Linked DNA regions of Homo sapiens. The protein of the gene in region 2 interacts with the protein of the main gene of each other region in a pairwise test. Each region holds a gene or a part of one and is shown on either strand. Other genes may lie near its edges. The genes, in order: ELF5, GLRX2 and DCXR.

What was found.
Region 1: the proteins of GLRX2 (region 2) and ELF5 interact in binary tests that used the Homo sapiens proteins (3 or more experiments, as listed by UniProt).
Region 3: the proteins of GLRX2 (region 2) and DCXR interact in binary tests that used the Homo sapiens proteins (3 or more experiments, as listed by UniProt).

Annotation. Positions count from the first base shown.
Region 1 is NC_000011.10:34,489,713-34,496,820, forward strand, and holds part of ELF5 (ETS-related transcription factor Elf-5), read right to left. Parts: intron 4,001-7,108; coding exon 3,767-4,000; intron 348-3,766; coding exon 297-347; intron 1-296. UniProt on the Homo sapiens protein: Transcriptionally activator that may play a role in regulating the later stages of keratinocytes terminal differentiation. Isoform 2 binds to DNA sequences containing the consensus nucleotide core sequence GGA[AT].
Region 2 is NC_000001.11:193,102,357-193,109,859, forward strand, and holds the start of GLRX2 (glutaredoxin 2 isoform 2 precursor), read right to left. Parts: upstream 3,059-7,503; 5' UTR 3,027-3,058; coding exon 2,908-3,026; intron 1-2,907. UniProt on the Homo sapiens protein: Glutathione-dependent oxidoreductase that facilitates the maintenance of mitochondrial redox homeostasis upon induction of apoptosis by oxidative stress. Involved in response to hydrogen peroxide and regulation of apoptosis caused by oxidative stress.
Region 3 is NC_000017.11:82,035,250-82,041,862, reverse strand, and holds DCXR (L-xylulose reductase), read left to right. Parts: upstream 1-4,165; 5' UTR 4,166-4,180; coding exon 4,181-4,232; intron 4,233-4,315; coding exon 4,316-4,413; intron 4,414-4,849; coding exon 4,850-5,004; intron 5,005-5,099; coding exon 5,100-5,142; intron 5,143-5,219; coding exon 5,220-5,319; intron 5,320-5,414; coding exon 5,415-5,479; intron 5,480-5,554; coding exon 5,555-5,672; intron 5,673-5,799; coding exon 5,800-5,903; 3' UTR 5,904-6,005; downstream 6,006-6,613. UniProt on the Homo sapiens protein: Catalyzes the NADPH-dependent reduction of several pentoses, tetroses, trioses, alpha-dicarbonyl compounds and L-xylulose. Participates in the uronate cycle of glucose metabolism.

The DNA.
Region 1 (7,108 bases), on a different chromosome or scaffold from region 2:
TTTGTGTGCATCATTTCTCAAACTTACCACGACCCACAAGGGTCACACTATTTTACAGATAGGGGAATGGAGTCTCAGACGATAAGCAATCCATAGACCCAAGCTATGGTCCTACAGACCCACACCCACGCTCTTTCTGTCACACTCTTTCCACCACGCTTTTCCCCACTGCTTTCTCCAGGTCTGGGATTGTTTTGGTTCATCAGCTTTTCAGTATGATCCTAAAAGAATGGTCAAGCCCATGTACCAATGACAACCTTGACAGAGCCTTGGGTGGCTTGCGCTTGGTTACTTACAGTCTTTGATGGTGGCCTTGCTTTCTTCAGCGTCATTAAAAAAGGAGTAACCTGGGAAAGAAAAAGAAATCCAGAAACCATACCATGCAATCCTGGTTTCCACTGGCCAGGCCAGGAGAGGGGGTGTTGGAGGGAAGTGGAGTGACTGTCCCTCTTGAGGTTGGTTACAATTTAGAGGGAACCTTGGAGACCATCTGGTCTTAGAGTGTCACCCTGAAGCCATCCCTGAGAGGTGATAATTTCCTCATTATTAAAGGTCATTTGGAGGGAGCACCCAGAACCAGGCTTCCCAGCAGCCTCTGCAGATTTTCTGAGCAGGCACTGGGGAGTAAGCTCTGGTCTGGGGTCCAGGGCTGGGCTCTGAGCTGGGCCGGGCTACTGATCCCTGTGCAGCCTTGCTCACTCAGTCTCTGGGCTTGTTGGTTTTTCTCATTGACATCACGAGATAAAATACCCACTAAGCTCCCCTGTGGCTAAGAGTCTATAGTCTCTGACATGGCCTCTAATCCCTTGGGGATTGGAATGCCTGTTATGTGCTGGTCAGTGGGGAGAATGGGCATAGGAGGTTGCAAGAAGTGCAAAGCTCTATGTGAATGCTGAGTTTAATGAGGATATGGAAGATGATGTCAGGACCTTGGTTCTCTCCTCTGTAGAATGGGGTGGGCTGGGGTTGAATGAGGAGTTTGAGATTGTGTTTTCACATAGCAGTTTAGGCTGAAGGATACCTATGTCCTAGCTTGGTCCAACACGAGGACTAATCTCTACTTGCTAAGCAGACTGGAGCAGGGCACAGTTGTGATTTTTTATTCTTGGCGTCATGTTCTCATTGGTTTTGGTCAGCCACGCGCCTCAGTTGACTCTGTCCAAAGGGCCGACTGAGAACAGGATGGGAGATTGAAGAGGGGCTCATTCCCCTCCTAGGCTGTGGAAGCCAACCTCTGACCTTGCTTCCCAGCAACCAGTGTCCCCAGGTTGCTAGGCCCTTAAATCCTACTGCAATACCTACCGAGCTGGATGGTGCTGAGGCCTTACAACCCCCTTCCAGCTCCTCTCCTCCATAAAACTGCCTTATTCTGTGTCCTGTTCTGCCAGAGTCAAAACCTATGGGGTAGTATAAGGCATACATGAGGTAATAACCCCCAGTCAACTGTAGAATTTATGATCTAAATGGAGACACTTTTGAGGATGAAAGGTAGTGCTATGGTAATAATAATTACTCTAGGATCACAGGCAGAAACGATGTCTCCTGGGCAAATGGGAGACAGTGTGAACTTTGATCACAATATATATATCTCCACAATCTACAATCCACATATCTGATTGAGAAACATTAAAAGAGGAATTTCAGAATGGAGTAGATTGGTGGAGTAGATAGTTTTACTGCTCAATATGGAACACTCCTGGCCTAGAGAGTGCTTGAAATCCCACCATTAAAGGTGGCATTGTGATTGCAGGAATTCCTTACAATAAGAAGAGGTAATGTATGACCTATTAAAAAGCAGTTGGCTTTTTTAGGTTTAGCCTATTAGTTTTGCACAGGGCCCTGGGGTAATAAAACCAGGGACAGGTTTGTTTTTTTTTTTTTTTTCAGGATTTTGCTCTTTTTGCCCAGGCTGGAGTGCAATGGTGCAATCTCGGCTCACTTGCAACCTCCACCTCCTGGGTTCAAGTGATTCTCATGCCTCAGCCTCCTGAGTAACTGGGATTATAGGCACGCACCACCATGCCTGTCTAATTTTGTATTTTTAGTAGAGACGGGGTTTCACCATGTTGGCCAGGCTTGTCTCGAATTCCTGACCTTAGATGATCTGCCTGCCTCAGCCTCCCAAAGTATTGGGATTACAGGCCTGAGCAACTGTGCCTGGCCAACAGGTTTTTTTTGTTTGTTTGTTTTTTGATGCAACCATTGCCAGGGAAGAGAGGTGCTTGTGGTGGGAGATGCCAGCACAGGGGCTGCACAAGAGCATGGAGACAAATGAGGTTGACTTGACATTTGGCCAAGCTGGCATTGCCAAACTGCATCTTTTTCCAGAATAAAATACACCCCTCTCTGTGGCCCTAGGATTTTTGTGCGAGCCTGTTCCCTTGGGAGGATCCTAAATGGAGTCCCAAGCTCCTTCTTCTGGAGCCGTTGTGACTTGGTCAAACTTGTCCTCTTTCAGGGAGTGCCCACTCTGAGCACAGGACACAGATCCCAGCTCTTGGCAGGTCATTGTCACTGGAGTTTTGGCTCCCAGGGCCCCAGCCATGTAGTGCCCAAGGGCCACCATTCTTAGCTTTTCTGCCTTCAAGCGCTCATGATGGATGAGGATCAAGAGGAGGCCAAAGAATCACAGAGCAGGAGGGTCCTCTGTGGTTTTTCTGTGCAAACAAGAGGCGCTGTCATATCCTCCTCTTCAAGCAGGGGGCTATTAGACTACTTGATTATCTCCAGTGGTGGGGATCGTCCTATCTCCTGTATCTTCTGAATTACCTTTTCAAAAGAAGGTACTAACCTTTAAAAAGATCCTTCTTAAAACTGAGCTGAGATAGGCTTCCTTTAACATCCTATAATATGCCTCTTGATTATATTAATGATGATGGAAAAACAGCTGCCATTTACTGCATTTCCATCTTCATATGCTGTTCTAGGTAATATTTCCCTGAATCCTCTCAAAAAGCCCATGGAGGTGTCATTATCCCATTGGACAGATGAGGCAGTGGGGATTCAGACAGCTTAAGCCACTCGCCAGAGGTTCCGTAGCTCGGAGTATTGGAGCCAGGGTTGGAACACAGGTCTTTCGGATCTCCAAGCCCTTGCTTTGTACTGACTTTCTGTGAATCAGCCCTGTTTGCTGTGTGACCTTGAGGAAGTCACTTAATGTCTCAGGATATCAGTTCCTTTATCTATGTGTGACTTTGAGACATTAGAGCTCGATGTTCTCAAAGAACCTTTCTGGATTGAAAAAATGTTCATCGACATTCTGCATGCAAAAGGCCTGTTGAAGAGTTAAATAATGCTATTGGCGCCACCTTCTGGCCACTTGATCCTTGACCATTAGGAATGTGATGAAATGATAATTAGTTGGACTCCTGTAGAAAAGGGAAGGTAGTCTATTTAATTTTATTCCTCTTCTGCTTAATGAGAGATGAAGCACAAACCTCTTTTTTGTCCATCCTGTGTGGTTTCAAATCATTATGAATATACTGTATTATTATCAGCCTGGTGCCTGGGCAGTCCCTGAACGTGGTGTCCGTTTTTCTTTCTCTTTTTTTAAATGCACTCAATTTGCATTTTTGTAACTCGCTCCCTTTTCCCTAAAATCCCCAATTCTGGCATACTAGCTTCCAGTTATTGAAGGTTTGGATTAACGAGAACTCCAGTTAGTAAAATTTTGCTGTGCAATTCACACGATGGGAAAGGACTTCTCAAAGTTGTTTGGTCCTAATCCTGGTCCCTCCCCTGGAGGTCTGGCCCTCTGAACACTGACCTTGTGTGCGGATGTTCTGGAGGATGAAGTACAGGTACTCGCCGCAGAGGCCAGCTGCCTCGACGAACTCCTCCTGTGTCATGCTGCACAGCTGCAGGCCACTGATGTTGAAGTTGCAGAAGGAGATGCAATTGGTGTCCAACTTGTACTGGTCGCAGCAGAACTGGAGCCACTCCCACACATGGCGCTTAGTCCAGTATTCAGGGTGGACTGATGTCCAGTATGAGTCACAGGCTGCACCAAAGGAGAAAGAAGTGAGGGACAACAGTCCCAAGACAGCCTTCGAGAGGGCCCCTGAAGGATGCATCAGTTAAGTAACATCCTCATTCCTCAGCCAATAAGTTGAAAGGGCCTCCAGCCCTGGGTGTTCTGCAGAGCCCAGGTCACCTTCTATTCTGCAGAGAAAACCAGAGGGACTGGATCCTACAGATGAACTTTGGCATCATAGAGGGAATGACAGGGGCAAGAAAGAACCAGTCTTGGTGCTGATGCTCAAAAAAAAAGGCATTTAGTGGAGAAAGAAAGAAAACAGCCCTTCAGTTATTTGATTCCAGATAACATGATATCAAAAGCACAAACTCAGCTGTTTGACAAGCTGGGTTGAAATTCTGATTCTACCACTTTCCGCTTGGCAAGGTCTGTGGACATTGAAGTCTCAGTTTCCTCATCTGTAAAATGGGGATAATATGCTCAATGCCCAGGACTATTATGGAGTTTGGGGTTAATGTATGTAGAATGGCACACAGAAACTTACCAACCAATTCAATAGTTACTAAATGCCTACCGTGTGTCAGAAACCATTTGAAGCTGGTTTTGATTCCCTATGCTTTAAAGGGCAGCTGCCCAATGCTGGCTATTTGTTTCTGCACAGTTACTGGCAATCTTGTGCCAAGAACCTTGGGTTATTAGACATTGCCCAGAGTCTGACAGTCCTTGCGTCACCATAGTAGGCACCTCCAGAGGAAGGTGGTCATGGGAGAGTTGGTTGTATTGTTGTTCTTGTGTTTTTGGTGGTGTTCAGAGTAATTTCTATCCTGAGATCAGAGCCCCCACTCCTTTAGAGGAGTCGTGTACATGCCTAGACAGTTGTGAGTGCCATCTGTCTGGGAGGCTGGCATGTGGCTTTGCCTGGCCCAGGGGTAGAGATTTGGTGTTCAACAGTTCTGTCCTTCTGTTCTTAGGAGAAATGGAAAGTGGGGTGGACATAAGGTATGGAAGAGGTGCTGTATTAGGTACTTGGTCAGGCTCTTTGACATAAACAATTATTGTATCTGCCATGGAAAACATTCATTCATTTATTCATTTCATTCAATAAATAAAAGCTTTAGTTTCCTTACTGGTAAAATTGGAATAATTACAGCACCTGTATCATAGTGCTGTTCTGCAGATTAAATGACTTAATATACATAAAAGTACCTGGAACAGAGCCTGGAGGATTTAAATGCTATTACAAACATTATTATTGAATATCTACTATGTGTGCAGCCACACGTTGTATGTTAAGGATTCATGGTGGACAGGTTTGGTCCCCCGTCCCCCAGGAGATCACAGAAGAGGAACTTGAAAGTCATGAAGGACTTTCCCAAGAACCCACGCCAGCGTGTGGCAGAGCTGGATTTGAACCCTAGCCTGAACTTGAAAGCCATTGCTCTCCCCACACCACCATACCGGGTCAGCACAGAGCAGAGATGGAACGTGAAGAGTGGCTGAGGCACGGGGAAAGCTGGAGAGAACACAACACGAGGGCCTGAAAAGAAAGGCAGAGAGCAGAGAGTGGCTAAGGTGACGATGACAGAAAGGGTCCCTCACATGTTATACCCCACAGCAAATAGCAGTGGTGCGATTTGCAGCGTTTAAAGGTGAGTAGAACTCGCACCATTGTCAGTTGCTGATGATTCCAGGCAGGAGGTGGGTCCTCTGCCTGTCAGGTGCTACTACTCACTCAGCACCCTCAGCCAGCCGAGGCGCTACGCGTTCTTGTCGTCTCAAGTTTCTCAGGTCCCCTCAACAATCCTATCCAGTAGGTGTAATTGGGCTATTCCACAAAAAAGGAAATAGAGGCTCCCCTTAAAACTCAAAGGTCTTCCAGAGATCTCTTTTACCACCGAAGGGTGGGTGGAGGGGCAGTTGATTTATTTTATTTAAAAATTTTCAGAATTTTATATGCATTAAGATCAAAGCGTCAATATTGTGCCAGGGTGCTTGAGGCTGATGTCGTAGCCTCTACCTGGCAGATAGGAAGAGCCAGGGAGCCGGTGAGACCGATGACTCAGGTCTTGCTCACTGGCCACTGGCTGGAGCTGGCTTACCAGGCCCGTGGGGGCTCTTCAGGGCAGGCAGGGGTTCCTGGCAGAACAAGGGGCCATTCCTGAGTTCGGCCTGAGCTTTCATCTACTGATTTCTGGCTTTAGTAAACCTGAGGGGCCTTTTGGACTTTACTGGCGTCCTGTGAGAGATGTTTATGAGCCTTGACATTTTTCAGCTGCGGGCCCTGCCCTAGATGGCCATCGGTGTGCGGCCGTCGGAGGGCACAGTTGATTTCATGGAAAGGTTTCGCCAAGGCTCTGTTCCCGTTTCCCTCCCCTCCCCTCTCTGCTTCCACCCCCTTGTTATTTTCTTTGGCACTTGAAGAGGGCCATATTGTTTGCGGAAGCCAAGGGGGCCTCAAGGATTCGGAGAAACGCCCAGGCGGGGAGTCGGCCCCACACCGGGGAGGTGTTGCTGGCGCTGGCTCCCTGCTCCTCGGCGCTCTGCTTTGAAGCTCACCCACAGAGCGGCTTTGTGTGCGGCCTCGGCCCCTGGAGGGGAGCCAGAGCCCTGCGGAGGCTCCCTCTCCTCATCCGCAAGCTCCTTCCAAAGCCCCAGAACTGGGAGGAAAATGGCTGCTCTGGGTGCCATGGCAGGCCTCTTTTCCGGGGGTCCCATCCTCAGGACGGGAGGAGAGTGGCAGAGCGGAGGCTGCCCAGACGAGGGACGCCGCTGTCAGCCCCTCCTCACCAGCCCCTCTCCTGCTCTTCTCTTTCAGGAGGCTCCACGGCCCAGAGTCTTCCCACAGCGACTTCTCTTTGGATGGAACGTGGTCCCCATCTGCCTTCTCCTGAGGAATCTCTGCTCATCCTCACTCCCCCTCGCAGAGGTCTCTTCCTCCTCACTGAGTGCCCATCAGGCGTCCTCCTCATCCCTCCCCTCCAGACCTAGAGCTTTTGCTCGCCCTGAACCAGGAGTGCTTGGAGCCTGGCCTAGCCCACCACAGGCCTACCTCAGTGAGTGTGACTGACTGACCAGGTGACTGACAGTCACTCTCTCCACTTTACACGTGAGGAGATTGCCGTTCCGGGGACT
Region 2 (7,503 bases):
TAGTCTTCTTTTTGAGATGGAGTCTTGCTCTGTCACCGAGCCTGGAGTGCAGTGGCGTGATCTTGGCTCACTGCAATCTCCGCTTCCCAGGTTCAAACAATTCTCCTGCCTCAGACTCCCGAGTCACTGACACTACAGGTATGTACCACCACACCTGGCTAATTTTTTGTATTTTTAGTAGAGATGGGGTTTCACCATGTTGACCATGCTGGTCTCGAACTCCTGACCTCATATGATCAACCTACCTCGGCCTCCCAAAGTGCTGGGATTACAGGTGTAAGCCACCGCGCCTGGCCTGAAATACTAGTCTTATTTTAAGTGAATCCACTCTAATAGCTTTTTCCAGTACATCTTATCCTTGGATAATGAACATCTGCCCTACACAGTAGTCCCCCTTTATCCACGGTTTCAGTTATCCAAGGTCAGCTGTGGTCCAAAAACATTACATGGAAAATTTCAGAAGAAAATAGTTCGTAAGTTTTAAGTAGCATGATGAAATCTTGAGCCATCTAGCTTCCTCCTACCCAGGGTATGAATCCTCCCTTTGTCCAGCATATGGACTCTGTATAAGCTCCCCACGCTTTAGTCAACAGCTGTCTTGGTGACCAGATCGACTGTCACAGTGTGGTGATGCTTGTGTTCAAGTAACCCTTATTTTACTTAATAATGGCTCCAACAAGAGTGAAACTCCGTCTTAAATAATAATAATAATAATGGCTCCAAACCACTAGAGTAGTGATGCTGGCAATTCAGGTACGTCAAAGAGAAGCCCTAAAGTGCTTCCTTTAAGTGAAACGGTGAAAGTTCTCCACCTAATAGGAAAAAAAAAATCACACGCTGAGGTTGCTAAGGTCTATGGTAAGAACGGATCTTCTATCAGTGCAGTTGTAAAGAAGTAAAAAATTCATGGCAGTTTTGATGTCACACCTCAAACTGCAAGTTACAGCCACAAGGTATAAGTGCTTAGTTAAGCCAGAAAAGGTATTAAATTTGTGGAGACAAGAACAGAAAAAGTGTTCCAACTGACAGCAATGTGTTATGCCAAAAAGCACTGGGCCTATGAGAAGATTCAGCAAGGGATTCCTTGAAATGAGCATTTTGTTATTAAAGTGATTGTTCTTTTATTATTGTTGTTAATCTCTTACTCTGCCTAATTTATAAATTAAACTTTATCATAGGCAAGTATGTATAGGAAAATAGCATGTATAGGGTTCAGTACTATCCGAGGTTTTAGGCATCCACCGAGGGTCTTGGAACGTGTCCACCACGGATAAGGGGGAACGATTATGATATCAGCTCACCTAGAGTGAGGAAGCTACAGCAAACATCAGTTTGTTCAGTTATAACAAAGAAGAGTAAGAGACAGGAATTAAACATTATAACATTATAACCTACCCAATGTTTACAATCTATTATTCCTTGCTTCCTAATAGTATTAGCAAGGAACACTTTAAAACAAAAAAAAAAGTCCTGTGCGCTTAACTCAGGAAGGAGTTAAGGGTAGCGAGCTAGGGAGACTGCAGCCAACCTGAGAGGAGGGTGAAGCTTTAAGATAAAAGAAAGTTGAGTTCCTGAAGCCTAAACCAGAAAAGGTTAGGCAGCACTGGCCTAGCCCTAAGGAAGAGCATTGGTGGAATAAATCAGCAAGCTGTATTTGGTTTATCAACTAAGAAAGCAAGTCCTTTCATCTCAGGTCCAGCACTTAAACTGTCATACCCAAACCATCTACTACAGCATTTACTACTGAAGGAGCTCCAATAGAACACAAGAGAATGTTTTCTTGGGTAGTGAGAGGAGGTAGGAGGTGCATTCTGAAATATTACCCAAATAAAAGTTTCTGGAAGACACCCTTTCCCTTCAATTTCTAGTTGACCTTGGTAAAAACTGTCGCGAACTATGAATAGAAACATGCACGGAGGAAGTAAGTGCACAATAAACATTTCATTTCAACACAGATGAAGCACCTAGTCATGCCACATTTATGGAGCGCCTACTGTGTGCTAAGTAGGCAAAGTGCTATATTGACCCCAGGGATACGCAGAAAAAAACACGGCGGGGCCTCAAAGAGCTGTCAAACACTTAACAGCCTGTGATTAGCCCTTCAGGAGGGGTCTCTAGCTTGGTCTGGAAAGTTAAACTTGAGATTCCTAGAATCTTGCAAAACTGATAGAAGCTCCCAGATCAAGTAGATAGCGAGACAGACTCTCCGGCCAAGTGCGCAGTGGCAGGCGCGGAAGTGCGAGCCGGCAGGACCGCCAGGCACCAGCCGCGCGGGCGTGGGCAGCACAGCCGCAGTTCCCTTCCACTGCAGGTCCCGAAGCCGCTGATATTCCAAACGAGGAAGTGTAAGGAAAGCACTATCCTCGGTCTAGCCGCAGGCGGCATCACCATCAGTCAGCCTCTATCCTAAAAGCTCTGGCCATTCAGCGGGAATCATCGCCTTCACTTCCTGCAGTAGGGTGGCTAAGTTTAGCAAACAAGAATGCAGGACGCCCGGTCAAATTAGAATTGTAACCAAACACCAGAAAACTGTTCCGTTTTTCCTATGTCCACTGCAGTATTTGGGACACACTTGGACTAAGAATCATTCGCTCTTTCAGAGAAATTCCAATTGATTGCGGCGTCTTGTATTTTATGTAGCAATTCACAGAGGGATGGCCTAAGTGAACATGAGTGAAGTATTTTCAACGCGAGAGTCACAGGCTCCTGAAGTCAGCACAGCCGCGGAGGGCACCCTTCCCTGCCCATCCCTCGAGCGCCTCTGCGTGTTATGACTCAGAGCCCACGCGCTAGTACGCCTCGCCCACCCGGCGCCGGGGCAAAGGGGCACCTCCGCCCACCGCTTTCTCCAGACCCCCGCAAGGCCTGCGCACCACGCCGCGGCACTCCTGCCCGCTGACCCCGTACCCAGAGGCCGCAGCTGCCGCAGCTCCCGCAGCTCCCGCCGCCCTGTCAAGCCAGCCTGCCGAGCCGCTCCTGCTCCAAACCAGCCGCGTCCCCGCCAGCGCCGCGCGGCGCCAAATCATGGTCAGAGCCCGGATCTGCAGCGAGCTCTACTGCCGGACACCGCGGATCCCGGGAGCCCGCCTCCTCCGGCCCGGCCCCCGCCTTGCCCCGCCCCGTCCCGCCCCTCCGGACTGCCCGCGCCGCCGCCGGTCACCTCCTCGCAGCTGAGCGCGTCCTCCCAGGGCTGCCCGAGCGCTGGATTCCAGCGAGTGCCACCCACGTGTAAACATCCTTTAGAGGGGAGAAGCGGCTCACTTGCTTATCTCGAGGGTTCATCCGAGCCCCGCCTCTGGATTCTTTTAGGTTTAGGGACGCTCATAAAGGCTCCCAGGCACTTGGAAGCAGTGCATGAGGATGGTGGCAGACATGCTGGGGAAACGGAGGAGAAAAAACATGACCATCCAAAACAGAATCAAAGTGGTGCCTCAGATGTTTCCAACTACCTGTTACACAAGTTTTTGTGTGGATGAAATAAGAGCCTAAATATATCCTCTTATAATTAGGCAATTGGTCGAGACCCAATGTAAATTATGGGGATATTGGGGTTTACATCCATAATTAAAAGAAAAAATCCGGTGTTGAAGGTTTACTCCAAAGAAGACAAAGATTATTTCCCACCACCTGCCAAAAAAAAAAAATTAGGAAACAAAACAAAAGAAATTAGCACAGAGATGTTTCACCATGGCTTTGGAAATGGGCGATTGCTGTTGACAGGATTATTTAAGCCACTCAGTGGTGGTAATAATAGCCTTTGTGCGTCACTATTTAAGGTTGGGGGTAAGCCTTTATTTACTGAGGACACTGAAATTCATCTTAAAGTCAAAGGTCAAATGGTACATCTAAAATTCTAAACAATTATTACAACAATCCAGAGCTTTTTTGATTCTTCATGTTCAACTAAGTGTAAAATTCATGTTACCAAAGTACAAAATAAGAACTTGTATTTCTGACAGTTCTTTTCCAACATTCAAATGGGCTATGTTTGATTACTTAATAAAAGGATGGAAGTTAGTTGCAAAAATAAATACCCCCAAAGGGTAGGAATTCATTCTTTTTAAAGACAAATTTGACTTTGAAAATTAAGGCATGTGGCCAGGCGCGATGGCCTGTCCTGTAATGTGGCCATTACAGGACTGCCCGCTGACCCCGTACCCAGAGGCCGCAGCTGCCGCAGCTCCCGCAGTGGCCAGTCCTGTAATCCCAGCACTTTAGGAAGCCGAGGCGGGCGGGTCACCTGAGGTTGGGGGTTCAAGACCAGCCCCTCCAATATTGGTGAAACGCCGTCTCTACTAAAAATACAAAATTAGCCGGGCGTGGTGGCGCATGCCCGTAATCCCAGCTACTCGGGAGGCTGAGGCAGGAGAATCGCTTGAATCCATGAGGCAGAGTTTGCAGTGAGCCAAGATCACACGATTGCACTCCAGCCTGGGCAACAAGAGCAAAACTCCGTCTCATAAAAAAATAAATAAATAAAATAAAATAAAAATTAAGGTATGTTATCTATCTATAGTGTTGTGGGCTTTTTAATTTTTTTATAAAACTATTTTGGAAATTTATGGTGTTATGTTAGTTTTGAAGTCAAATTTTACCTCATCTCAAATTGTTTTATGAAATAAAGATCATTATGAGGTGAACCGATCATGTTACAATTTAATTTTAATACAGCATAGATGGACTATTATCAAGCACAGAATTCACTGGACAGATTTTTTTAAGGATTTCAGAATGTAAAGTACTTCAGAAGAAAGTGTTATGCCTGAATTCAGCATAATATATTAATAAATATATTGATAATTTTCAACTTCTTTGTGCTTCGTGGGGTAGCTACAGAAGTGATTATTATTTTTGGTCATAGTTGTGATGACTGCAATAGCAAGTTAAGAAATATGTCAGCAGACAGTAGAACGGTGGTTGCCAGGGCCTGGGAGAAGGTGGAAATGGGGAGATGTTGGTCAAAGGGTACAGAGTTTCAATTATGCGAGATAGGTAAGTTCTAGAGAGCTAAAGTACAGCAATGTGACTATAGTTAGGAAAATCGCAATGTATGCTTGAAATTTGCTAAGAGGGTAGATCTTGTGTTCTCACACTTGCACACAAGAAAGAAAATGGGGCCAGGTGCGGTGGCTCACGCCTGTAATCCCAGCACTTTGGGAAGCTGAGATGGGTGGATCAACTGAGGTCAGGAGTTCAAGACCAGCCTGGCCAATATGATGAAACCCCATCTCAACTGAAAATACAAAAATTAGCCGAGCATGGTAGCACGCGCCTGTAATCCCAGCTACTCGGGAGGCTGAGGCAGGAGAATCGCTTGAACCTGGGAGGCAGAGGTTGCAGTGAGTTGAGATTGCGTCACTGCACTCCAACTTGAGCGACAGAGTAAGACTGTCTGGAAAAAAAAAGAAAGAAAGAAAAAGAGAGAAGAAAATAAAGGGAATAGAAAAAAATGGTAAATATGAAAGGTGGTGGCTATGTTAATTAGCTTGATTGTGATAGTTATTATACAGTGTATCAGGCTTTGGAATGAATGTTTGTCCCCTCTGACACTTATGTTGAAACTGTCCAATGTGGCAGTGCTGACAGGTGGGGCCTTTGAGAGATGATTGGGCATGAGAGCTGGAACATGAATGAATGGATTAATGGGTGATCATGGGAGTAGAACTGGCAGCTTTATAAAACAGAGTTCTCTGCTGCCTTGTCCCATGATGTCCTACATGGCTTGGGGAATCTGCAGAGTTCCCACCAGCAAGAAGGTCATTACCAGATGTGACCTCTTGACCTTGCACTTCTCAGCATTCAATACTGTAAGAACAATTTATATACAAATTACTCAGCTTCAGATATTCTGTTATAAGCAACAGAAAATGGACTAAGACATATACATGTATCAAAATATCAAGTTGTACATTTTAAAAGTAAAGTGACAGACCAGGCATGGTGGCTCACGCCTGTAATCCCAGCACTTTGGGAGCCTGAGGCAGGTGGATCACAAGGTCAGGAGTTCGAGACCAGCCTGGCCAATATGGTGAAACCCCGTCTCTACTAAAAATACAAAAAAAAATTAGCTGGGTGTGGTGGCGCATGCCTGTACTCCCAGCTACTCTGGTGGCTGAGGCAGGAGAATTGCTTGAACCCGGGAGGCAGAGGTTGCAGTGAGCTAAGATGGCTCCACTGCATTACATCCTGGGTGACAGAGTGAGACTCCATCTCAAAAAAAAAAAAAAGTTGTTGGCATGAAGACGTGAAGGCAGGCCAACTGGAAGGGAAGCATCCTATATGACTGGTTTGGGGAGCATATTTGGAAAGCTGGTAGTCATTAACCAAGTTCTAATTGTTCTGGTCTGTTTGCTCGAAGTCAGAGTTTTATTGTCATGTGTGTTCTGCCCATTATCCATTTATATATTCAGTCCCTCACCATTAAATAATGGGATTCCATAGTTAACCTCTTGTTCCTGAATTCTATAAATTTTATGTGCCCACTATGTGCCAAGCACTGTAGTGAACAGCACAGAAATGACACTAGCATTCATGAAAACCTAGGATAATACATAAGAGGAAGGCCTAAATTGAATTTGATATTTTGGAAGGAATGGCAGAGGAAGAAACTTGTAACCTAAGGTTTTAACAAGAGTAAGAGTTAGGCAGACAAGGTGGGGGCAGAGGGAGAAGGGAAGGGGAAGAGCTCTCCAGGTGGTAAGGAAGAAGACAAAAGCTATTACATGCTTTCCATGCAGAAATTTTTTATTTAATCTGATTTGAAATTAGCCATGTTCGCAATTTTAATTTGTTGGTTTAAAAAAGCAAGCATGACTTGTCTGTGTTTCCATATTTAAAAATCCGTGTTGAAAGAGCAAATAAACCAACAAATCTAGTTCTGTCATATGCCTTACTTTTACTGCCCTCTACTTTCTTTTCTTGGTTTCGCAAAGGCTATTTATTAGATATTCTTTGAAGTTTTTATTGAATTGGGCTTGCTGCTTCTTTTTATTGGAAATTCAACATGTTATTCTTCTGCTGTACCAGTAGCCAACCAGACTGAGATCAGACCATCATCCCCCAGCCCCAACAGATCCCCATATTATTGGAGCACCTTAGAACAATTATCAATACAGGTACAATTTATCCTAGGAGATGACTGTTGAGTCAAGCTCAACTCAATTCTGAAAAAAAAAAAAAAAAAAAAAAAAAAAAAGCCCAATATCTTTAATGATTACTTTTATGTGTCAACTTGACTAGACAATGGATGCCCAAGTATTTGGCCACTAGGTGTTTCTGTGAGGATGTTTTGGAAAGAAATTAACATTTAAATTTGAAGACCGAGTAAAGCAGATTGCCCTCCATAATGTGGGTAGGCTTTATCAAATCAGTTGGAAGTCTGAATAGGACAAAATGATGACCCTCCTCCAGCCAGGAAAGAGTTCTGCTAGATGTCCTTGGAACTGAACATTAGCTCTTCCTGCCTGATGGCCTTCAAACTGGATAATTGGATCTCCTTGGTTC
Region 3 (6,613 bases), on a different chromosome or scaffold from region 2:
CGGAGTTTCACCACGCTGGCCAGGCTGGTCTCAAACTCCTCACCTCAGGTGATCCACTGGCCTTGGCCTCCTGAAGTGCCTTTGTTCTCCTTTTTGCCCTTTGAAGCATGTGATCTCTGTGACCTACTCCCTGTTCTTGCACCCCCTCCCCTTTCAAAATCCTTAATAAAAACCTGCTGGTTTTGCGGCTCAGGCGGGCATCAGGGTCCCACCGATATGTGATGTCGCCCTGGGAGGCCCAGCTGTAAAAGTCCTCTCTTTGTACTCTTTCTCTTCATTTCTCAGCCAGCCAACACTTATGGAAAATAGAAAGAACCTACATTGAAATACTGGGGGCTGGTTCCCCCGATATCTGGCGCGCCAACGTGGCTTTTCTTTTTCCTGAGTGCATGTGGGGACCCGCTTCCCTTTGGTAGTTGTGTAGAAACGTTCATCGGTCCGGTTCACAGAAATGCTTGTTCGACTCAAAAAAAAAAACCAAAACTGACTCATATGGTTTAGTAATAGACTGGGTACCAAAGGGCTATTTAAAAAACAATTGCTCCTGTGGCGGGAGGGAATGCCTGGAGGCTACTTGTTTTATTTCTTATTGGAAGAACGAGGATCATCATTTTACTTTGTATAGGAGGTTCAGCTCTTTCTTTCCCTTAAAATGGGAAAATAAGGACATTGTCCCCCGAGGGCTCGTGTGATACTCCCCATTCTGAGCTCAGAACACCCAGAACTTTGAAAATTGGCTCTTGCCACATCCAGACTGCGAGTATGGGAAGGGGAAACTTTTCTGTCTGTTGTCCCTGCTACCGCCCCTCGCGTCCGTGATTCTGAACCCCATGATAAATCTCCTTTGAACCCTTTTCCTCTTTTTGATGCCAGTCCTCTTTTATGGGACTCCAATTGGCATTACGATAATTTTTCTCAACCCAGGTATGCCACTCTACCTCTTCAGCATCCCCGGGCACCTCAAATTGCTTTTTTTTTTTTTTTTTTTTTTGAGACGGAGTCTCGCTCTGTCGCCCAGGCTGGAGTGCAGTGGTGCGATCTCGGCTCACTGCAAGCTCCGCCTCCCGGGTTCACGCCATTCTCCTGCCCCAGCCTCCCGAGTAGCTGGGACTACAGGCGCCCGCCACCACGCCCGGCTAATTTTTTGTACCTTTAGTAGAGACGGGGTTTCACCGTGTTAGTCAGGATGGTCTCGATCTCCTGACCTCGTGATCCACCCGCCTCAGCCTCCCAAAGTGCTGGGATTACAGGGGTGAGCTACCGCGCCCGGCCCTTCAAATTGCTTTTTGACAGCGGATAACATCGGGTGTGGCCACCACTGCTCCTCTCCCTCAGTATCAGTGTAGATTCAGACATTCTGCTTTGTTCACCTCCAATGTGACTATTCCTATAGAGTTGTGTTAAGCTTCGTTATATGCTGTTAGTGGGGAATATCAAAATTTGGACGAACAATCAAACTATCCAATGTATTAATTGTCATTTATATACTTGTGTTAACTCCCGTTTTGACTCTAGGAAAAGTGTAATGTTGGTTCGAGCTCGAGAAGGAATCTGGATACTGGTAACTTTACCCAGACCTTGGGAATCTTCCAAAGCTGGGCAAGAGGGCAGAGGGCTAGGGGCCAGGATCGGGCCCTCCAGGCAGTGGTTGGGAGGGCACAGGGCACAGGGTGGGGGTAGGGGATGCCGAGGGTGCTTCTGACCAGCCAGCAGGACTCACAGGGAGCAGGGCTTGAGCCACGGATAACAGGACCAGTGAGGCCTGGTCCACTCTCCTGGGGGCACGTGCAGGCCGCTGGAGGGGTCTAAGCAGATGGGCCTTCCAGGAAGGACAGGTTGAGGGGTGTCCTTCCCTTGGCTGCTGGCAGGCAGAAAGCAGGCTCCAAGGGTAGGGGCAGAAAGCAGAGTTTACAGGGCGGCCAAGGGGGGGTTGGACTGGCCGCAGTGCCAGGTCTGATATGGACCATGCACTTGGCTGTCCTCCAGAACAAACCAGGACCTTGCCTCCTGCTGTGCCTGGCCACCCTTGCCTCCGGCCTGTCCACCTCTGTGGGCCCAAAGCCCCAGATGATCCAAAGGCCCTACAGTCACCAATTCCATACTCCTGGCCACAGAAGGTCACTCCTGGCCACAGAAGGGCAGTAGTTCTAGACTTTCCTACCATGACCCACAGAACAAAGTAGCTTTTACATGGAGGCCCAGTGTGTGGGTGCACACACACACGCATCTGTAACTGACCCCAAAGCCTCGGGAAGCAATGCTGGTCTTTGCTGGACCACCATGTACTTCCATGACCCCAATCCCTTCCTATCCTATTCAACTTCTAAAAGGTGCCCCTGGCCGGATGCTGGCTGTCCAAGGTGACCTGGGGTTCAAGTCCCTTTCAGATGAATGTAGGGTACAGCCCTATGGGGCTTAGCAGGTCTTCTCCCCGTGTGCGGAGACACGAGATTGTGAGAAATAAAGACACAAGACAAAGAGATAAAGAGAGAACAGCTGGGCCCGGGGGACCACTACCATCAAGACACGGAGACCAGTAGTGGCCCCGAATGGCTGGGCGCACTGATATTTATTGCATACAAGACAAGGAGGGCAGGGTAAGGAGGGTGAATCTTCCAAGTGATTGACAAGGTGAAGCAAGTCACGTGATCATAGGACAGGGGGCGCTTCCCTTTTAGGTAGCTGAAACAGAAAGAGAAGACCATACATCAGCGCTTTCTTCTATGTACTTATAAGAAAGATCAAAGACTTTAAGACTTTCACTATTTCTTCTACTGCTATCTACTACGAACTTCAAAGAGGAACCAGGAGTACGGGAGGAACATGGAAGTGGACAAGAAATGTGACCATTAAATCATAGCACCACAGGGAGGGGGTTAGGCCTCCGGATGACTGCGGGCAGGCCTGGATAACATCCAGCCTCCCACAAGAAGCTGGTGGAGCAGAGTGTTCCCTGACGCCTCCAAGGAAAGGAGACTCCCCTTCGCAGTCTTCTAAGTAACGGGTGGCTTCCCAGACAACGGCATTACTGCTTGACCAAGGAGCCCTCAAGCAGCCCTTATGCGGGAGTGACAGAGGGCTCACCTCTTGCCTTCTAGGTCACTTCTCACAATGTCCCTAGGTTATATTAGTAATGCAACAAAGAGTAATATTAAAAGCTAATGATTAATAATGTTTATACTAATGATTGATAATTATCCATGATCATGATCATTTTTATATCTAATTTGTATTATGACTATTTTTATTTTAACTGTTTTTTTTTTAAAGATGGAGTCTTGCTCTGTCGCCCAGGCTGGAGTGCAGTGGCGCAATCTCGGCTCACTGCAAGCTCCGCCTCCTGGGTTCGCGCCATTCTCCTGCCTCAGCCTCCTGAGTAGCTGGGACTACAGGTGCCCGCCACCGCGCCCGGCTAATTTTTTGTATTTTTAGTAGAGATGGGGTTTCACCGTGTTAGCCAGGATGGTCTCGATCTCCTGACCTCGTGATCCACCCGCCTCGGCCTCCCAAAGTGCTGGGATTACAGGCGTGAGCCACCGCTCCCGGCCTATTTTCTTTGTTATACTGAAACAGTTTGTGTCTTCAGTCTCTTGCCTTGGCATCTAGGTAATCCTTCGCCCACAGATGAAAGCGGAGCTCTGCTGACATTGGTGTCTTCTCCAGACGTAGTTGGTTGTCCAAATTCTTTCCCTTGGCTTTAAAGTGAGCCGGCGGTGTCCTGCTCCCAAGCCTGAGAGATGATGGGCACAGGCGACACTTTTTAGGACATGCCGATGTTTTCAGAAACAAAACAAGAAATGTTAGCCCTGAAATTCTCCATTTCACGTGTTCTTCCTGATATTAACCACACATTCTTTCCGATATTAACCACCACATCGTCTTTTTGCAATAATCTTGGCAGGGAAAAATATGCTAGCCAGGGTCCACTACGTCGATTTCAAGCACGGAAGATGGGTCACACCAGGCACTTCAAAAGACCCGTCCCTGAGGCAGCGGAGACCCCGCCCCGCCCCGGCGCGCCCACTCCTTTCGGCCAATCACTGCAGCGGGGAGCAGCTATTTGAATGTCCCCACCGCCTATCTGAAGGCCGCCCTGCCATTGGCCCCGCCGCGCCCCGCCCATCGTGGCCAGAGCTTCAAGTTCCGCAGCCCCAGTGCGGAGGGCGGAGACTGCGCCGACATGGAGCTGTTCCTCGCGGGCCGCCGGGTGCTGGTCACCGGGGCAGGCAAAGGTGGGCGGCGGGGAAAGGTGGGCAAAGGCCGGCGGCGGGCAGAGGCGGGCAGGGGACGCCTTCACTGAGCCCGCTCCCGGCAGGTATAGGGCGCGGCACGGTCCAGGCGCTGCACGCGACGGGCGCGCGGGTGGTGGCTGTGAGCCGGACTCAGGCGGATCTTGACAGCCTTGTCCGCGAGGTAGGTCCCGCCGGGTCCCAGCGCTGCGAGGCGGCGAGCCAGGAGGGGGCGGCAGCGAGCGGGGGCGGTACCTCTGTGCGCGACTCCGCCTCCCCTCGCGGGCGCTGCGCTTCTCACCGCGGCCTGGGCGCCCGCGCACCCTCTCTCGGGGCTGGTGGCCTGCGTGGGCGGCCGGGTGGTCGGCAGAGCCGCCGGGGCCCCCGGGCTCAGAAAGAGGCCGAAATGGCTGCGAAGCAGGCCCCGGGCAGGAGTCGCTCGGGCGCAGGGAGGAAGTGAACCGGCCGGAGGTAGCGCCCGGCTGCTGGCCCCACAGTCCCGACACCTTCGGAACTCCTAACTCCTTTACTTGTCCGGCTGAAAGGTCACCAGCCCCAGTCCCCAGCTGTGCCGCTTGCTGGGCACAGAGCCTCTGGTAACTGCCCCCTGATACACACAGTGCCCGGGGATAGAACCCGTGTGCGTGGACCTGGGTGACTGGGAGGCCACCGAGCGGGCGCTGGGCAGCGTGGGCCCCGTGGACCTGCTGGTGAACAACGCCGCTGTCGCCCTGCTGCAGCCCTTCCTGGAGGTCACCAAGGAGGCCTTTGACAGGTGAGCCTGTGAGGGCGGAGGAACCTCAGGGAGGGGCTGTCCTGGAGGACGCAGCAGCCCTAATCTCTGACCAGGGTCTGTCCCTCGGCCTCTAGATCCTTTGAGGTGAACCTGCGTGCGGTCATCCAGGTGTCGCAGGTGAGCTGCCCTGTGGGCTGGACGGGAATTCTCGTGAGTGATGCCAGCTCTGCCTCACGGTCTCGCTGCGATTCCAGATTGTGGCCAGGGGCTTAATAGCCCGGGGAGTCCCAGGGGCCATCGTGAATGTCTCCAGCCAGTGCTCCCAGCGGGCAGTAACTAACCATAGCGTCTACTGTGAGTGCCCCAGCTGTGCCCTCAGCCCCACCCCAGCCCCAGCCTCGCCCTCATCACCGACCCCAGCCCCAGCCAGCTTGGGTTCCTCTTCGTAGGCTCCACCAAGGGTGCCCTGGACATGCTGACCAAGGTGATGGCCCTAGAGCTCGGGCCCCACAAGGTGAGCAGGGCTGGGGTACCTCCCCCAACCTAGGACACCCCACTTGCCCTGCTGACCCCAGCTGTCCCGGTGTAGATCCGAGTGAATGCAGTAAACCCCACAGTGGTGATGACGTCCATGGGCCAGGCCACCTGGAGTGACCCCCACAAGGCCAAGACTATGCTGAACCGAATCCCACTTGGCAAGTTTGCTGGTGAGTCAGGTGGGAGCCCAGCCAGCGTGGTGCCAGCAGTCCCTGTGTGTGCCCTGGGTAGGGGTGGGAGGGAAAGATGGGCGGCAGCCTCCTTCCTCTATGCCCCTGACCCCCGCCCTGCCCACAGAGGTAGAGCACGTGGTGAACGCCATCCTCTTTCTGCTGAGTGACCGAAGTGGCATGACCACGGGTTCCACTTTGCCGGTGGAAGGGGGCTTCTGGGCCTGCTGAGCTCCCTCCACACACCTCAAGCCCCATGCCGTGCTCATCCTACCCCCAATCCCTCCAATAAACCTGATTCTGCTGCCCAGACTATGTGCTATTCCTAGGCTGCCAGCAGGTAGCTGGGGGCTTGGGGCCAGGTGTGGAACGCGGGCAGAGACCCATGACATTCACATTCCAATCCAAGGGGGAGCGTGGCTCCCACTCCTGAGGTTTTCAGGCCTGGCCAGTTCTCTGTCAGGGAGGTGGGAGGTGGTGAAAGGTCACCTCCCAAAGAGGGTGGTGAATTTCAGCAAGGTTGGCCTTCGGGCCTGTCCAGAACCTCTGGGGTGAGACGGTGTGTGCATGTGAGTGTTGATGGCCCCCTCTGTGAGTGTACAGTTGGCTCCTCTTCCTTCAAGCTAATGAGTAAGACAAAAGGGAAACAAGGAGAACGTCAAGCTTCTCCACTTCGTCGGTGATCTGAGCCACTTTGTTGAATCAGATGATGGTTTTCGGAAACTAGAAGAGCGTTTCCTCAACTTGTGCTATTCACAATGTAATGAGCATAGACACAGCACCCTGAAGTCTAATCTGCATTTTATCATCTGAAGTCTAGACAAGTAACCATAAGTCAAGCCTCCTCCCACCACGGCTGATTTCAAGCTACCAGTTAGATGTCATTTAACGTGGAGCTGGAGGAGATGCCCTCAGCACCCTGTTATGTGGTGTTTGTGTCC